3 separate regions of the Homo sapiens genome follow, and all the other regions are linked to region 3. Evidence: fine-mapped expression QTL. A gene starts in region 3. Each other region holds a variant in brackets. All regions are shown on one strand. Distances are from middle to middle.

Evidence for each region. PIP is the estimated chance that this variant, and not a neighbour inherited with it, causes the effect. A credible set is the group of variants that fine-mapping cannot tell apart.
Region 1: its variant is the best candidate, but not a certain one, in a credible set for the expression of SRPK2 in whole blood (TOPMed, PIP 0.75).
Region 2: its variant is the best candidate, but not a certain one, in a credible set for the expression of SRPK2 in whole blood (TOPMed, PIP 0.51).

The regions. Positions count from the first base shown.
Region 1 is chr7:105,446,089-105,450,326 of GRCh38, forward strand. No RefSeq gene overlaps it. Among named protein-coding and RNA genes, the nearest start is that of SRPK2, 59 kb to the left of the region's middle. RefSeq lists an enhancer at 2,081-2,200. The variant A/C (reference allele first, on the strand shown) is at 2,158.
Region 2 is chr7:105,359,974-105,364,211 of GRCh38, forward strand. The region is part of intron 2 of SRPK2 (SRSF protein kinase 2); the gene reads right to left. Among named protein-coding and RNA genes, the nearest start is that of SRPK2, 27 kb to the right of the region's middle. The variant C/T (reference allele first, on the strand shown) is at 1,762.
Region 3 is chr7:105,386,672-105,390,909 of GRCh38, forward strand. SRPK2 (SRSF protein kinase 2) reads right to left here and starts at 2,250. Exons shown (of 16, transcript NM_182692.3): 1 at 2,120-2,250; 2 at 1,977-2,031. The coding sequence starts at 2,135. RefSeq lists silencers at 1,401-1,500, 1,601-1,720, 2,061-2,190, 2,221-2,290, 2,301-2,350 and 1 more.

The DNA of each region.
Region 1 (4,238 bases), 59 kb after region 3:
AAGTGTTGACAGAAAAAACCCACCAACTTAGAATTATCTACATCCAGTGAAATTATCTTGCAAAAGTGAAGGAGAAAGAGACTTTTTCAAAAAACAAAAACTGAGGGAATTTATTGCCAGCAGACCTGCCTTGCAAAAACTGTTAAAAGAAGTTCCTCAGTGAAAAGGAAAATGATATAGGTCAGAAACTCTCATGCATATCAAGAAAGGAAGAGAATCAGAGAAGGAATAAAAATAACCTTTTACTTTTCTTATTAACTGATCTAATATATGACCATTCAAAATAATAATAGCAAGAAGGAATTGCATGATTATAGCATGGAAATGTGAAATCAATGAAAGCCGTTTCTTTGCTTTAGAAAGCAGTAGAAAGGAGTTGCAAATACTGTTTTTTTGTTTGTTTGTTTTTGTTTTTTGTTTTTTAGACAGAGTCTCACTCTGTCATCCAGGCTGGAGTACAACGGTGCAATCCCAACTTGGGATGCCTCCCGAGTAGCAGGGATTACAGGTGCCTGGCACCGTGCCTGGCTAATTTTTGTATTTTAGTAGAGACGAGGTTTCACTATGTCAGCCAGGCTGGTCTTGAACTCCTGACCTCACATGATCTGCTCACCTTGACGTCCCAAAGTGCTGGGATTATAAGCATGGGCCACCGTGCCTGGCCAGCAAATACTGTTATAAAGTATCTGTACTATCCATGAAGGACCTGTACTACTCATGAAGCAGTATGGTGTTATTTGAAAGTGGACTTGGTTATGAATGTATATTGCAATTTTTTTTTTTTTTTTCTGAGATGGAGTCTCGCTCTGTTGCCCAGGCTGGAGTGTAGTGGCACAATCTCGGCTCATTGCAACCTCCGCCTCCCAGGTTCAAGCAATTCTCCTGCCTCAGCCTCTTAAGTAGCTGGGACTACAGGCACCCGCCACCATGCCTGGCTAATTTTTGTATTTTTGGTAGAGACGGGGTTTCACCATGTTGGCCAGGCTGGTCTCAAATTCCTGACCTCAGGTGATCCACCTGCTTTGGCCTCCCAAAGTGGTGGGATTACAGGCGTGAGCCACCGTGCCTGGCCAGCAATTTTTTTTTTTTTTTTTTTTGAGACTGAGTCTCGCTCTGTTGCCCAGTCTGGAGTGCAGTGGCGCTATGTCAGCTCACTGCAAGCTCTGCCTCCCAGGTTCCCGCCATTCTCCTGCCTCAGCCTCCCAAGTAGCTGGGACCACAGGCACCTGCCACCACGCCTGGCTAATTTTTTGTATTTTTAGTAGAGACGAGGTTTCACCATGTTAGCCAGGATGGTCTTGATCTCCTGACCTCGTGATCCACCCGCCTCGGCCTCCCAAAGTGCTGGGATTACAGGCGTGAGCCACCATGCCCAGCCAGCAATTTTTTAAAGTAGTGAAAAATTCACATGGTAAGAGAGGAGAGAAAATGAGTTATTGCTCCAAGCACAGATGACAACTCCTGGAAGACTGGGCCCAAGTTCTGGAGGGAAGATGATCCTACTTGGCATCACTTCGTCTTCCTACCTCTGTGGACAGCCAATCCCACCCAGATGGGACTGTGTACAGGCTTCTTCCTTAGCCTGCAACAGTGGGAACTGATGGTGCTGTGATGGGTCCACAAGGAGACATGTGCAATGGAGTTGATGACAATGTTGTTTAGGGTGATGAGGAGTTAGAGGCAAATCTGATGTCCATCCCTGGAGCTCCGTGTAGTCCACGTGTGATGGGTGCACTCCATGGAGTACTCTGCAACAGTTAGCATTGAGGGATTCTCTGGAGAAAGCTGAGGTCCGGAGGAGGGATGTGGATCTCTGAAGGTCTCTGAGCAACAGTCAGTGGCAGGGCCAGGACTTCAGCCTGTGCATTTTGACTCCTGGTTTGACGTCCTTTCCTCTTTATCACAGCAGCCTCCAGTGCTTTATTTACTTTTGGATTTTCACCTTTTGGAGTTATCCACATCATGACTTCCTCCTAATTAATGTGCAGGGGTCCTAAGAAACCAGGATGGCACAGGAAAGAAACAGACTTTAGCTCCACTTTATTAGACAGATATTATTATTAGAAAAAAGGATCAACTAAGACTCTATCATCTTTCCAGCTAATGGAAGGTGGCTAACTCGTTAAGTGGAATGACTCTGTGTCAGCTTGACGAGCA[A/C]GTTTTTTGGTAGTGAAACATTTGTCTAGGCCAAAACAGGTAGTAAGATCTTCTATGTTGAAAATTAATTTTGTAAACAGGAAGAGAGAAATGTAGAAAACAGGATGAATGTGGCTAGTAGAGAACAGACGTGGGTGCTGGGCTAAGGAGAGTTATGTTCCCCATTTGCAGCTCTCAGAGGGTGCAGGTGGAGTTGAACTGAGCTGAAACAAAAGCGTTCCCAAGTGCGCCTAAGTGGTTTTTTTTGTTGTTGTTGTTGTTGTTTGTTTGTTTTGAGACGGAGTCTCACTCTGTCGCCTAGGCTGGAGTGCAGTGGCGAGATCTTGGCTTACTGCAACCTCTGCCTCCCGGATTCAAGAAATTCTCGTGCCTCAGCCCAGCAAGTAGCTGGGATTACAGGCGCCCACCACCACGCCCGGCTAATTTTTGTATTTTTAGTAGAGACAGGGTTTCACCATGTTGGCCAGACTGGTCTTCAACTCCTGATCTCAAGTGATCCGTCTGCCTAGGCCTCCCAAAGTGCTGGGATTACAAGTGTGAGCCACCGCTCCTGGCAGTGCCTGACTATTTTCATCCTGTAAAGTTATGGTTGTGAATTCTTGCGCTTAACCCTGAGCCCTCCCAGTCATGAAAATCCATTTTCAGATGGTTACTGTGGACACTGCAGCAATCTAGTTATTATGGACACCATAGGAACTTAGTTTAGAAACAAAATTTCAATAAAGAATAACTCCTACAGCCTTTAAAACCCAACCCTCAGCTGGGCGCAGTGGCTCACGCTTGTAATCCCAGCACTTTGGGAGGCCGAGGCAGGCAGATCACGAGGTCAAGAGATCGAGACCATCCTGGCCAACATGGTGAAATCCCGTCTCTACTAAAAATACAAAAATTAGGTGGGCGTGGTGGCATGTGCCTGTGGTCTCAGCTACTCGGGAGGCTGAGGCAGGAGAATCGCTTGAACCCGGGAGGGGGAGGTTGCAGTGAGCCAAAATCACGCCACTGTACTCCAGCCTGGTGACAGAGCAAGACTTTGTCTCAAAAAACAAAACAAAACAAAAACCCAACCCTCAAGAAAGTAAAGATAGGCCAGGCTCAGTGGCTCAAGCCTGTAATCCCAGCACTCTAGGAGGCCGAGGCAGGCAGATGGCTTGAGCTCAGGAGTTCAAGACCAGCCTGGACAACATGGTGAAACCCCATCTCTACCAAAAATACAAAAATTAGCCTGTAGTGGTGTGTGCCTGTAGTCCCAGCTACTTTTAAGCCTGGGAGGTTGAGGCCTCAGTGATCCGTGATCGTGTTACTACAGACAGCCTGAGCAACAATGAGATCTTGTCTCAAAAGAAAAAAAAAAAAAAAAGAAAGTAGACAACCCATGGAATGGGAGAAAATATTTGCCAATCGTATACCTGGTAAAGGATTTGTGCCTAGAACATACAAAGAACTCTAGATCTCAACAACATAAAGAAAAATAACACCCCCCAAATGGGCAAAAGATCTCAATAGACATTTCTCCAAAGAATAGACAAATGGCCAATAAGCATACAAAAATATTCCACATAGTCATCAGGGAAATGCAAATCAAAACCGTAGTGAGAAACCACTTTATTTTCATTTGTTTAAATTTATTTTTATTTTTGCTTTTGAGATGGAGTCTTGCTCCCTCGCCCAGGCTGGAGTGCAGTGACGCAATCTTGGCTCACTGCAACCTCTGCCTCCTAGGTTCAGCAGTTCTCCTGTCTCAGCCTCCCAAGTAGATGGGATTACAGGTGCCTGCCACCATGTCTGGCTAATTTTTGTATTTTTAGTAGACATGGGGTTTCACCATGTTGGCCAGGCTGGTCTTAAACTCCTGACCTCAAGTGATCTGCCCAACTTGACCTCCTAAAGTGCTGGGATTACAGGCGTGAGCCACCACGTCCAGCAGAGAAACCTCTTTATACCCAAAAGGATGGCTACAATCACAAAGACAGATAACAACAAGTGTTGACGAGGATGTGGAGAAAATAGAACTGTCATACACTCCTAGTGGGAATGTAACATGGTGCAGCTACTTAGGAAAACAGTCTGAGAGTTCTTCAAAG
Region 2 (4,238 bases), 27 kb before region 3:
GGGGTGTTAAAGTCTCCCATTATTATTGTGTGGGAATCTAAGTCTCTTTGTAGGTCTCTAAGGACTTGCTTTATGAATCTGGATGTTCCTGTATTGGGTGCATACAGATTTAGGATAGTTAGCTCTTCTTGTTGAATTGATCCCTTTACCATTATGTAATGGCCTTCTTTGTCTCTCTTTTGTTCTTTGCTGGTTTAAAGTCTGTTTTATCAGAGACTAGGATCTCGACCCCTGCTTTTCTCTGCTTTCCATTTGTTTGGTACATCTTCCTCCATCCCTTTATTTTGAGACTATGTGTGTCTCTGAAGGTAAGATGGGTCTCCTGAATACAGCACACTGATAGGTCTTGACTCTCTATCCAATTTGCCAGTCTGTGTCTTTTAATTGGGACATTTAGCCCATTTACATTTAAGGTTAATACTGTGTGAATCTGATCCTGTCATTATGATGTTAGCTGGTTATTTTGCCCATTAGTTGATGCAGTTTCCTCATAGCATCGATGGTCTTTACAATTTTTTTTGCAGTGGCTAGTACCAGCTTTTCCTTTCCATATTTAGTGCTTCCTTCAGGAGCTCTTGTAAGGCAGGCCTGGTGGTGACAAAATCTCTCAACATTTGCTTGTCAGTAAAGGATTTTATTTCTCCTTCACTTATGAAGCTTAGTTTGGCTGGATATGAAATTCTGGGTTAAAAATTCTTTTAAGAATGCTGAATACTGGCCCCCACTGTCTTCTGACTTGTAGGGTTTCTGCCGAGAGATCCGCCGTTAGTCTGATGGGCTTCCCTTTGTGGGTAACCCGACAGGCCTTCATGCTAAAAACTCTCAATAAATTCGGTATTGACAGAACGTATCTCAAAATAGTAAGAGCTATTTATGACAAACCCACAGCCAATATCATACTGAATGGGCAAAAACTGGAAGCATTCCCTTTGAAAACTGGCACAAGACAAGGATGTCCTCTCTCACCACTCGAATATTCAACACGTTGCTGGAAGTTCTGGCCAGGGCAATCAGGCAAGAGAAAGAAATAAAGGGTATTCAATTAGGAAAAGAGGAAGTCAAATTGTCCCTGTTTGCAGATGACATGATTGTCTATTTAGAAAACCCCATCATCTCAGCCCAAAATCTCCTTAAGCTGATAAGCAACTTCAGCAAAGTCTCAGTCAATGTACAAAAATCACAAGCATTCTTATACACCTATATACCAATAACACACAGAGAGCCAAATCATGAGTGAACTCCCATTCACAATTGCTACAAAGAGAATACAATACCTAGGAATCCAACTTACAAGGGATGTGAAGGACCTCTTCAAGGAGAACTACAAACCACTGCTCAATGAAATAAAAGAGGACACAAACAAATGGAAGAACATTCCATGCTCATGGATAGGAAGAATCAATATCGTGAAAATGGCCATACAGCCCAAGGTAATTTATAGATTCAATGCCATCCCCATCAAGCTACCAATTACTTTCTTCACAGAATTGGAAAAAACTACTTTAAAGTTCATACGGAACCAAAAAAGAGCACGCACTGCCAAGACAATCCTAAGCAAAAAGAATAAAACTGGAGGCATCATGCTACCTGACTTCAGACTATACTACAAGGCTACAGTAACAAAAACAGCATGGTACTGGTACCAAAACAGATATATAGATCAATGGAACAGAACAGAGGCCTCAGAAATACCACCGCACATCTACAACCATCTGATCTTTGACAAACCTGACAAAAACAAGCAATGGGGAAAGCATTCCC[C/T]ATTTAATAAATGGTGCTGGGAAAACTGGCTAGCTATATGTAGAAAACTGAAACTGGATCTCTTCCTTACACCTTATACAAAAATTAATTCAAGATGGATTTAAGACTTAAATGTTAGACCTAAAACCATAAAAACCCTAGGAAGAAAACCTAGGCAATACCATTCAGGACATAGGCATGGGCAAGGACTTCATGACTAAAACACCGAAAGCGCCTGGCAACAAAAGCCAAATTGAAAAACAGGATCTAATTAAACTAAAGAGCTTCTGCACAGCAAAAGAAACTACCATCAGAGTGAACACGCACTACAGAATGGGAGAAAATTTTTACAATCTACCTATCTGACAAAGGGCTAATATCCAGAATCTACAAAGAACTTAAACAAATTTACCAGAAAAAAAATCAAACAACCCCATCAAAAAGTGGGCGAAGGATATGAACAGACACTTCTCAAAAGAAGACATTTATGCAGCCAACAGACACATGAAAAAATGTTCATCATCACTGGCCATCAGAGAAATGCAAATCAAAACCACAATGAGATACCATCTCACACCAGTTAGAATGGCGATCATTAAAAAGTCAGGAAATGGCCGGGCGCGGTGGCTCACGCCTGTAGTCCCAGCACTTTGAGAGGCCAAGGCGGGTGGATCACAAGGTTGGGAGATGGAGACCATCCTGGCTAACTTGGTGAATGGCCTGAACCCAGGAGGCAGAGCTTGTAGTGAGCTGAGATCACGCCACTGCACTCCAGCCTGGGCGACAGAGCAAGACTCTGTCTCAAAAAAAAAAAAAAAAAAAGTCAGGAAACAACAGGTGCTGGAGAGGATGTGGAGAAATAGGAACACTTTTAAACTGTTGGTGGGACTGTAAACTAGTTCAACCATGTGGAAGACAGTGTGGTGATTTCTCAAGGATCTAGAAATAGAAATACCATTTCACCCAGCCATCCCATTAACGGGTATATACCCAAAGGATTATAAATCATGCTGCTATAAAGACACATGTACATGTATGTTTACTGTGGCACTATTCACAATAGCAAAGACTTGGAACCAACCCAAATGTCCATCAGTGATAGACTGGATTAAGAAAATGTGGCACATATACACCACGGAATACTATGCAGCCATAAAAAAGAATGAGTTCCTTTGTAGGGACATGGATGAAGCTGGAAACCATCATTCTAAGCAAACTATCGCATGGACAGAAAACCAAACACTGCATGTTCTCACTCATAGGAACTGAACAATGAGAACACTTGGACACAGGATGGGGAACATCACACACCGGGGCCTGTCGTGGGGTGGGGGGAGAGGGGAGGGATAGCATTAGGAGATATACTTAATGTAAATGATGAGTTAACGGGTGCAGCACACCAACATGGCACATGTATACATATGTAATAAAGCTGCACGTTGTGCACATGTACCCTAGAACTTAAAGTATAATAAAAAATAAATAAAAATAAATAAAAAATAAAAGAAACTACCATCAGAGTAAACAACCTACAGAATGGGAGAAAATTTCTGCAATCTACCCATCTGACAAAGGGCTAATATCCAGAATCTACAAAGAACTTAAACAAATTTACAAGAAAAAATCAAACAACCCCATCAAAAAGAGGGCAAAGGATATGAACAGACACTTCTCAAAAGAAGACATTTATGCAACCAACAGACACATGAAAAAATGCTCATCATCACTGGCCATCAGAGAAATGCAAATCAAAACCACAATGAGATACCATCTCACACCAATTAGAATGGCAATCATTAAAAAGTCAGGAAACAACACGTGCTGGAGAGGATGTGGAGAAATAGGAACACTTTTACACGGTTGGTGGGAGTGTAAATTAGTTCAACCCTTGTGGAAGGCAGTGTGGTGAATCCTCAAGGATCTAGAACTAGAAATACCATTTGACCCAGCCATCTCATTACTGGGTATATACCCAAAGGATTATAAATCATGCTACTAGGCTTACTACACATGCACATGTATGTTTATTATTGCGGCACTATTCACAATAGCAAAGACTTGGAACCAACCCAAATGTCCATCAATGATAGAGTGGATTAAGAAAATGTGGCACATATACACCATGGAATACTATGCAGCCATAAAAAAGGATGAGTTCATGTGCTTTGCAGGGACATGAATGAATCTGGAAACCATCATTCTCAGCAAACTATCACAAGGACAGAAAACCAAACACCGCATGTTCTCACTCGTAGGTGGGAGCCGGACAATGAGAACACATGGACACAGGGCGGGGAACATCACACACTGGGGCCTGTCGTGGGGTGGGGGGCTGGGAGAGGGATAGCATTAGGAGAAATACCTAATGTAAATGACAAGTTGATGGGTGCAGCAAACCAACATGGCACATGTATACATATGTAACAAACCTGCATGCTGTGCACATGTACCCTAGAACTTAAAGTATAATTAAAAAATAATAAAATAATTTTTAATAA
Region 3 (4,238 bases):
GGGCCATTGCACTCCAGCCTGAGCGACAAGAGCGAAACTCTGCCTCAAAAAAATTATTAAATAAAATTATGACTTGATTCAAAGAGTTAAGTGAAAAATGGCAATGCCTCAATCAGTTATATAATTGGGCTGGTCCCGTTACCTTACAGACTAGAGCCAGTTCGTTTCATCATTAGCTGGTGTGTTATTTTCCCCCTCAAATTCTATCACATATACACAATACACAGTGGGAGAAACTGGCAGATTAATCTGTGAGAGGAAAAGCTGAGTACTGTGGCTATTCACTAAGTCTTCATCAACATACCACATAAATCCAAACTGCGGCCCACCAAAAAGGCCCTCGACCATTAGGAAAATCATACTCTAATATATGCAAATACAAGACACATATTGACTTAATTAGAACTGTTTTTCCACATGTACGTAAAGGTAACATGCACATATACGTGTCTATTTGTATATACATGCACACATAGCCATCTCCGACACTGGGGTCATACTTTTTCCACTTGTTTTTATGTTTCTGAGTATAACAGACTACGTGGAATTAAATCAATGCTTTGAATTAAGAGCTGTGATTAAAACACAGTACTTATTCAGAATCCTAAACATTACAGTTCTCCTTACCACTGGGTAAACTTCCATGGTTCACCAAAGGAAATCTCAAATTTAAGGTTGTAATTCACTTGAAAGCTAGCACTAATTTTTTTAAAAGCAACCAAAACTACCAAAAATCCAGTCCATTTTAACATCTTATGAATTCAATATCCAATTTTTACCGACCAATTAGTTCTTCAACTCTTTAGGAAGTGCTTTCCCCTTACTCTAATGGTTTTTTCTTTTTTTTTTTTTTTTAAGGTATTTTTAAGTCACTATCCACATTTTGTGAAACTGAAGGACCAAGGCCAACGAGAAGGGGAAAAAAGTGAGCGTGCTGCGACGTACCCCTCAAAGGAAACAACCAAAAATGTTTCTGGATTTTATTAAAGATAATGCTGGATTCTCGTTCCCCACAGTACCAAAGATGCCACACAGAGTATTCTTGCTCAAAAGAGCGAAGCAATTAATCTAGAGGAAGAGATAACGATGTCGAACGCTGGTAAATCAAAAAAATTAGGAGAGAGGAGTGGAAAAGGAGAAGACGCGGCGGCGCTGTGCGGTCTCGGAGCAGCTCTCCAGGAAAGGGTTCTTGGGCAGCGGCCCCCCTGCTCGGGTGAGCGGCCAGGCTGGAGGTGGCCGCCACGGGCGCGTTTTCCACTCCGACCGGCTCCCGCGCACACGCCCACCGCCCTGCGCAGCCCGCGACCCCGGCGCCCGCAGCGCACCCAAGTCACGCTCAACCCGAGCGGAAAGTTTCGAATCCAAACCCGAGAGCCGAAACGCACAGGTCTCGGGGCTGAACTCGCGCCAGGAACACGCCCGAGGCAAACCACTTGACAACCAGCTTAGGTTCTCAGCAGAAAGGCCGACAGGCGGGGGCCGGGGAGGAAGGGGAGGCGAGACACACGCCCTCCCGCACACTCGGCCCCTCCGCCTCCTCGGCCCGCGGCTCAGGTGGGAGCAACGCAGCCGCTGCACTCCCGCAGCGGGCGGGCCGGAGCCCAGCGGCAGACGCCGGGGCCCCTTCCGGAAAGGGCCGCGACCCCCGGGCCAGCTCGCGGGCAAGGGACGGGTGCGCACGCCCTGCCCGGCGCCTTTCCGCCGGCCTCCCGCCCGCCGGCCGGTGGCGACCCGGGGCGGGAGGTCGCGGGGTCGAGGCTCCGTGATGCTAGGGAACCGGCCGCGGCCCGCGCGCCCCTCCCCCGCCGCCGCCCCTCCCCCCGGGCCGCCCGCCGGGGGCAGGAGCCGAGCGCCAGCGTCCCGGGGGACCAGCCCGCCCGCCGGCCCGGGGACCCGGACAACTTTCCCCTGCGCGGCCGCGGGCGCCCCCGACGGGGCGGGGGTGGGGAACGGGGACAGGCGCAGCGTGGACTCACTTTTTCGGATGTTTCTCTCTTTTCGGCCTCCGCTTTCGGGCCTGAATGGCCAGCACTGGGGAAGAGAAGACACACATTAACGGTCGGGCCGCCCGCCCGGGCTGGCCGCGTGGCGGGGAGAGGGCGCGCCGCGGGCCACTCACCTTTCCGGGAGCTCATTCCGACGCGGCGGAAGCGGGGCGGGGGGCTTCGCGACGGCGACGCGGGCGCCGAGACGAGCTGGGCTGCAGCCTCCACTCGCTCCGCCGGCCGGGAGGAGACGAGAACCGCGCCTGCGCCGCCGCCGCCGCCGCCGCTCCAGCAGGGACCCAGCAAGACCCGCCCCCGTCCGGCCCCGCCCCCGCCCCGCCCCCACCCGCCGGCCCCGGGGGTCGGGACCCCAGCGCCGCGCGCCCAGCGCCCCGCGCCCCCGCCCCACCCACCTGTGCAGAAGTGGCCGCCGCCCATGGCCGCGCTGGCCCTCGGCCTCCCCCACCCCAGCCCGCGGCCCGGGCCTCCGCCTCCTGCGATCCTGCGGCTGGCCCAGGCCGCCCGCCTCTCCCGGGCACCGGACCCGCGGGACCCTCCCTCCCCGCCGCGGCCTCTCCCCTCCGCACCCCGGCCGGTCGCGCCGCCCGCTGCTCCATGCGCCCGTCCTTGGCCGGCGCCTCCGCGGGTCTCGCACCACCTCTCTTCCCGCGGCCTCTTCTCTCCCTTTGCTCCTCTACATCCTTGCAACCCCATGAGCGCCGCTTCCTCCTCTCCGGCAGGCGTGGAAAGGGCACACGACCAAAAGCTGGGAAACCTGGGTCCGCGATTAGCGGTGTGACCTTGGAGAAGTCATTTTCTCTCCCACCTCTAAGTGCCCTCCAGGATTGCATGAGTTTAATGAAGGAAAAGATACAGATAGCATTCAAGGTAGGACAAAGGTTTTGCACATGAATTGAAACTCGCTTCCGTAAACACCAGGTGTATAACAATTCAAAACAACAATCACACCAAGTAGTTATTTTCTGCATCCTACAATGAGGAAACTGAGTCCCAACGAGGTTAAAAAGTTTAACCAGCCAGGATCGAAATTCAGGCCTGGCCGTCGACAAACCACCTTATCAGGCTGCCTACAAAAGATGTGAATCAAGTTGATAGTGACACAAAAAGATAACTGCAATGTTCTCTTATTTATGTAAATAATTACAATAGTTTTTGAAAGATACGCATTCTGACTATTAACTCCCTCATTGGTCACACAACTGTATCTTTGACAAGGTGGCTTACACTAAGGATGATAAATCAGAACGGGAAACTCTGCTTGGATTTTGAAGAGTCCTTAACTTTTTATATTCAAAAAAATATCAAACCCTATAGAAAAGTTACAAGGAAAATACAATTAACAGCCAAATTAACCCATATTCACCAATTTTTAACATTCTGCCACATTTGCTATCTATGTGTCTGTGTGTATGGTTTATTTTGCTGAATCACTTGAGTTTTTGTAGACACTGTTACCCTTTATCCCTAAATATTTCAGTACATATCTACTAAGAATAAAGATAATCTCCCACATAATCAGAATTCCATGATCACTCCAAGAAACTTTCATACTAATACAATGTAATCATCTGTAACATACAGGCCATATATATTCAATTTTGCAAAATATCCCAGTAATATCCCTTGTCGCTGATTTTCTTTTTTTCCCAATTAGTCTACCATTAAGGATCATCCGTTGCATTTAATTGTCATGTCTTTTTAAACACCTTTAGTCTAGAATCATTCTTGGTTTTGTGTTTTGGTTTTCTTTCTATTTATTTATTTATTTTGAAATGGAGTCTCACTCTATCACCCAGGCTGGAGTGCAGTGGCGCAATCTCAGCTCACTGCAACCTCAGCCTCCCGGGTCCAAGCCATTCTCCTGCCTCAGTCTCCCGAGTAGCTGGGATTACAGGCATACACCACCACATCTAGTTAATTTTTGTTTTTGTTTTTTTTTTTTTTTTTTTTTTTTTAGTAGAGACAGGGTTTCACCCTATTGGCCAGGCTGGTCTCGAACTCCTGACCTCGGGTCATCCACCCACCTCAACCTCCCAAAGTGCTAGGATTACAGGCCTGAGCCTCGGCACCCAGCCTTTTTTTGTTTTGTTTTGTTTTGTTGTTTATAACATTGACTTTTTTGAAGAATCCAGTTCCACCATTTTGCAGAATGTTCCCTGTTTTGGATTTGTCTGTTTCCCTATGATTAGATTCAAGTTAAACAATTTTGTTGGCTATACTATAGATGATGTT